Linked DNA regions of Homo sapiens: region 1 is linked to region 2. Evidence: fine-mapped expression QTL. A gene starts in region 2. The other region holds a variant in brackets. All regions are shown on one strand. Distances are between the middles of the regions. Region 1 overlaps FBP1 (fructose-bisphosphatase 1). Region 2 holds the start of PCAT7 (prostate cancer associated transcript 7).

The links. PIP is the estimated chance that this variant, and not a neighbour inherited with it, causes the effect.
Region 1: its variant is the best candidate, but not a certain one, in a credible set for the expression of PCAT7 in prefrontal cortex (CommonMind, PIP 0.58).

Annotation. Positions count from the first base shown.
Region 1 is chr9:94,618,157-94,621,065 of GRCh38, reverse strand. FBP1 (fructose-bisphosphatase 1) reads left to right here. Exons shown (of 7, transcript NM_000507.4): 2 at 575-737. Among named protein-coding and RNA genes, the nearest start is that of FBP1, 20 kb to the left of the region's middle. The variant G/A (reference allele first, on the strand shown) is at 1,308.
Region 2 is chr9:94,553,653-94,556,561 of GRCh38, reverse strand. It overlaps PCAT7 (prostate cancer associated transcript 7), which reads right to left and starts at 1,479. Exons shown (of 3, transcript NR_121567.3): 1 at 1,217-1,479. LOC124902218 (a long non-coding RNA gene) reads left to right here and starts at 1,673. Exons shown (of 2, transcript XR_007061674.1): 1 at 1,673-2,003. RefSeq lists enhancers at 1,278-1,940, 2,605-2,909.

The DNA of each region.
Region 1 (2,909 bases), 65 kb before region 2:
CTTTTTTGTATTTTTTAATAGAGACGGGGTTTCACCATGTTAGCCAGGATGGTCTCGATCCCCTGACCTCATGATCCACCCGCCTCAGCCTCCCAAAGTGCTGGGATTACAGGCGTGAGCCACCACGCCCGGCCCTTTTTTAAAAAAATTATTATTATACTTTAAGTTCTGGGATACACATGCAGAATGCGTAGGTTTGTTACATAGGTATAAACATGCCATGGTGGTTTGCTGCACCCATCAATCTGTCATCTACATTAGGTATTTCTCCTAATGCTCTCCCTCCCCTAGTCCCCAGCTCCCTGAGAGGCCCCAGTGTGTGATGTTCCCCTCCCTGTGTCTATGTGTTCTCATTGTTCAACTCCCATTTATGAGTGAGAACATGTGGTGTTTGGTTTTCTGTTCCTGTATTAGTTTGCTGAGAATGATGGATTCCAGCTTCATCCATGTCCCTGCAAAGGACATGAACTCTTTCTTCTAAATCTTACCGAACACTCACTTTTGGTGGGTTTATGGACTCATCTACATGTTCTGGTGGTCATGGCTTATTTTTTGTGGCTTTTGTTCCCTGTAGCTATGGCATTGCTGGTTCTACCAACGTGACAGGTGATCAAGTTAAGAAGCTGGACGTCCTCTCCAACGACCTGGTTATGAACATGTTAAAGTCATCCTTTGCCACGTGTGTTCTCGTGTCAGAAGAAGATAAACACGCCATCATAGTGGAACCGGAGAAAAGGGTGGGTCTGTACTTCCACCATTGAGGGTTTTAATGTAGCCGGTCTTCTTCCCAGCTTCATAATTGACTCCACTTGTTCAGCTGAGCTGGGTTTCTGGGAGTCCCTCTAGATCCCTGCTGTGGTCTTTTCATAGCTTCCACCTCACTGCTGCCATCTCTCGAATCCTCCCTGAGCCACTGTGCAGATGAGTGTTGTGGCTCACGCCGCCTTCTCCCCAGTGGACTCCCACAAACTCATCTCCATTTCTAACTTTTTATTGCCATGTTTAAGGCTCTTCAAACCCTGGCTTCTGTTGGTCACCTCTTGTACTACATCCCTATCCACCAAATTCCTGACCTTCACACTGACCCTCCTGTTGACCTAGACTGCTTGAAACTTCCATCCCTGATGCACGCATTGGAGTCCCTATTGGTCTGTCTCTGCTTCTTTTTTTTTTTTTTTTTTTTTTTTTTTTGAGACAGTGTTTTGCTCTTGTTGCCCAGTCTGGTGTACAGTGGTGTGATCTTGGCTCACTGCAACCTCCGCCTCCTGGGTTCAAGCGATTCTCCTGCCTCAGCCTCCTGAGTAGCT[G/A]GGATTACAGGTTCCCGCCACCACACCTGGCTAATTTTTGTATTTTTAGTGGAGATGAGGTTTCACCATGTTGGCCAGGCTGGCCTTGAACTCCTGACCTCAAGTGACCCGCCCACCTTGGCCTCCCAAAGTGCTGGGATTACAGGTGTGAGCCACCACACCTGGCGTTATCTCTGCTTTTTGAGAGCAGAAAATGAATCTTATTTGTCTCTGTGTCCCAGTGTCTAGTGCAATGCCTGGCACATTGGAGGGCCTCAACAACAAATGACTGTTGAAAAAGATTGTTAAATGAAAGAGTATTCCCAGCTTTTATAAAACAACAATTGTAATTAGAAAAAAAAACTTCTGAGATTAGAAGTGCAGTTATATGGGCTTACTATCTTTCCCAGTTTGAGAGGAACTGGGAACATGAAGGAGTAGAATTAGGAAAAAACAATGAGAAGATGAAGAGGCTGCCTGTCCTCACCCTATTAAGAGGGCAGGAGCCACATCTGATGAAGTTGTTTTTCATCATTCCTAAAATAGCCGTACATGCCAGACTTGAAGTTCATGTTTTTCTCAGCTGGGCCTTTCAAGGTCTTTGGCAGCTTTAGGCGTATGGCTTAGATTTGTTGTTTAATATTCTCCATCACTCACGCCGGACTTCTCTTGTCTATCATGGGCCTTCATGATAGGCAGCTTCCTGTGTTCCAGTTTCCAGTTCCTCCTGCATTAGTGAGGGTGGTCTGTGAAGAGCAAGAGGGCAGGGAATCATGTTAATCTGCTACAGACATTTAAAAACGACATTGTAAAGTGGCTAATTTGGAGATGGAAAACTCCCAGTGATGTGCTGGTAAACTGGGTCTCAAAGCAAACAAACAAGTCTCTGATATGTCCACTTGCCTCTGTCAATGGTGTGAATACTCTCCCATCGTTGATTTTAAGCTACCAATGTGATATCACTGAAGGCAGAGTTGGGAAGAGATGTGCACCGTTAGCTCCTGAGAGCCGATACCAGCCAGCTCCTGCACACCACTGAAAATCCCACTCAAAACAGGAATCTGCGGTATTCCCACTACCACTGAAAGTTATCTACTTTGGGAATTACGCTAGAAATTTGTTTTGTTTAGTTTTGTTTTTAGAGACAGGGCCTCATTCTGTCACCCAGACTGGAGTGCACAGTCATGGCTCACTGCAGCCTCGAACTCCTGGCTCAAGTGATACCTCCTGTCTCAGCCTCCTGAGTAGCTGGGACTACAGATGTGCAGCATCATGCCCAGCTAATTGAATTTTTTTTTTTTTTTTTTTTTTTTTTTTTTTTTTTACAGAAGGAGTCTCTCTATGCTGCCCAGGCTGGTCTCAAACTCCTGGGCTCAAGCAATCCTCCTGTCTTAGCCTCCCAAAGTGCTAGGATTAGGCATGAGCCACCGTGCCCAGCCAGGATATTTTTGAAAACTCTATGCACCCCAACCTCAAGGGGCATCTGTAAGACCTCCATGAGAAGTTTCTTATAGATCTCAACCCTAGCAAAGTCTCTGCTTCACCTAAGGAATTATTTTTTTCCTTACAAATAAAGGAAAATGAGTGACTAACCTTCTTTTTCCTTTGGCTGCCAGGAAACTC
Region 2 (2,909 bases):
ACTCAAAAGTGAAAATACAAATAATCTTATTTTTAAAAATCTACCCAAAACCTTTGTCCCCCACCATTTCCCCACCTTCTTTTCCTGACCGCATTTGGCCCTCTCCCTCTCACCACCCTTTCTCTTCCTCCATCTACCCCAAACTTTTTCACCGTTTTCTCCCTACCGTCATTTCGCAAAGCCTTCTCTACTCTCCCGCTCACCACGCTTTTCCCCATCCATCTACCCAAACACTTTCTCCCACCGTATTTTTTTTCCCACCGTATTTTCCCCCTTCTCCCTGGCCACCCTCTTTTTCCCCCTCCCGCTGTCATCACGCCCTTTTGCTCCTTCATATAAGCAAAAACATTTTCCCCCGTCTTTTCCCAAAGCCTTTTCCCTACTGCTGCTCACCACCCTCTTTTCCCCCTTTATCTACCCAAAAACTGTTTTCCTCATCGTCTTTCCCCCGGCTCCTCCTTGCCACTCTCCTTCCCTTCTCCATCTACCCAAAAACATTTCCCCACCATCTTTTCTCAAAGCCTTTTCCCCACTCCTGCTCACCTCCCTCTTTTCCCCATCTACCCCCCAAAATTTCCCCATCTTTTCACAAAGTCTGCCCCTGCTTCCCACTCGTTCTCTTCTCTCCCCTATACTGCTTGCCACCCTCCTTTTTGCCTTCCATCTACCCCAAACTATTTTCCCGTCTTTTCCCCAAACTTCTTTCCCTGCTCCCTCTCGCCACCCTCTTTTCTCCTCCTCCTTGTCACCCTCTTTCCCTCCTCCATCTACCCAAACACTTTTTACCTACCATCTTTTCTCCACCATCTTTCTTTTCTGCCACTGTTTTTTCGCAAAACCTTGTCTTCCTCCCGCTGGTTACCCTCTTTTTCCTTCTCCCACTTGCTATCTTCTTTTGCTCCTCTACCCAAAAACTTCTCTCCCCACCATCTTTTCACAAAACCTTCTCTCCCTACTGCTCGCCCATTTTCCCCCCCTCACCACTCTTTCCTCTTCCCAATTGCCACCTTCTTTTCCCCCTTCATCCACCCATAAACTTTCTACCCACCGTCTTTCTGCAAAACCTTCCTTCCCTCCCTCTCTGCACCCTGTTTTTCCACCTCCATCTACCCAAAAACTTTTTTCCCCACCATCTTTTCCCCATCGTCTTTTTGCAACGCCTTCTCCTCCTCGCTATCCTTTTTTCCCTTTGGCACTAACCACACTCTTTACCCACCTCTATCTATCCCAAAACTATCTTCTTCTTCCTACCCCTCCAGCCGCGCTGCAATGTCCACCGCCACCACCAACCGCAGCGAGGCGAGCCGCGCCACGGTGCCGCGGCTCAAGCCTCCAGCATACGACCTGTGACTCCTTTTCCTGGTCTTCTAAGCCGGGCACTGAGCAGCTCAATAGAAACACACGGAAACCTAAAAAAACAAAAACAAAAAAAACAACAACAAAAAAAACGTAACTCTGCTTCAGCATTATTTATATCCTGAGGTTATGCGCATGCCGGTTCCTAGACTGCATGTTCTGATTGGATGAGAGCAAGTCTTAAGACAACCAATCACAGCATGAAAATAAAGTCCAATCAGAGTAGGCCTAGAGGTTTTTCTCTCATCCAATCAGAACATGTAGTCCAGGGTCTCCTAACCTCAGTATATAAAGCATGCTGAGGCAGCGGCGCGTCATTTCTGGCACTTATGTGTGGGTGTGGGGAGCTACTACGTACCCGGCTTAAAGAACTGGAAGGCTCCGTCACTTTTCGCCCCCTGGAGCCTGGAGCTTGGAGCCTGGAGCCTGGGGCACTCCCTCCCTGTTGGTGGTGGTGGTGACGGAGCGGTAGGAGGGAGGCTAGCAGCGAGAGCTTCTCCTGCCGGGCTGGAAGACAGAAAGAAGAGGCACCGCCGCGTGCTGGAGGCTGGAGCCGGAGCTTGCGCCTCCGCGGCTCGCCTCGCTGCGGTTGGTGGTGAAATCAGAGACCGCAGCTCGGCCACAGTGGTAGAAATGTGGTAGGGTAGGTGAGTTATCCAGGGCTGCACTGCCCTCTTCTGGGGGTAAGGGTTGGGTGTACTATAGGGGCTCACTGCCAAAGGCTACACTGCCTGTGGCATTGGACTGTTTGGGGGCACTCTCTGGGGTTGCATTGCTGGTGGTGGAATGGGGGGCTACACTGCCCGAGGTGGCAGGGGTGGTCGGGAGAGGCAGGTTGTGTACACTAACGTGTACTGCCAGTGGCGGTGGATGGCTTAGGGGCGTTGTCTTCTGCTGCACTGTCCGTGGCAGGGGCGGGTTGGGTGGAGTTATCTGGGGCTACAATGCTGGCAGTGGGGGGTGGTTTAAGGGCGTGGTCCGGTGCTGCACTGCCTGTGACTGGGGGTGCGCTATCAGGAGCTGCACTGCCCATGGCGGGGTGAGGGTGGGGCGGGTTTGGGGCGCTGTCTAGTGCAGCAATACCCGTGGCTGCGTCAGGTGGGCACTATCGGGTGCTAACACTGCCTGCGGCCGAGGAGTTGGGATGGTTTGGGGGGGTATTGGTTACATTGCCTGCAGCTGTTGGGTGTGCTATCCCAGGGTTACAGGGGGCAGGTTAGGGGTGCTATCGGGGGCTATACTGCCAGTGGGGTTGGTGGGCTGCAGAGGCAGCAGCGGCAGCGACAGCTGTGGCCTCCTTCCTCTTTCTGGTGGCCTCCATGGAAGGATGGAGTTCTTCTCTTCCCGGACTCCAGACTCTAGAGGGTGATCTCTTCGTGCTCATGCAATCTTGAGCACCGCAGGGCTCTCACACCCACTGTGGTTCCCTGGCCCGCGCCCTCACGCACGCTCTGTGTTGTGGAGACCATCTGGGACTACCGGGCAGGGAATAGAGGGCACCACGGGGGAGGGAGGGGGACAGGGCACTGTGGGTGGAGGCGTGAGGAATGGGA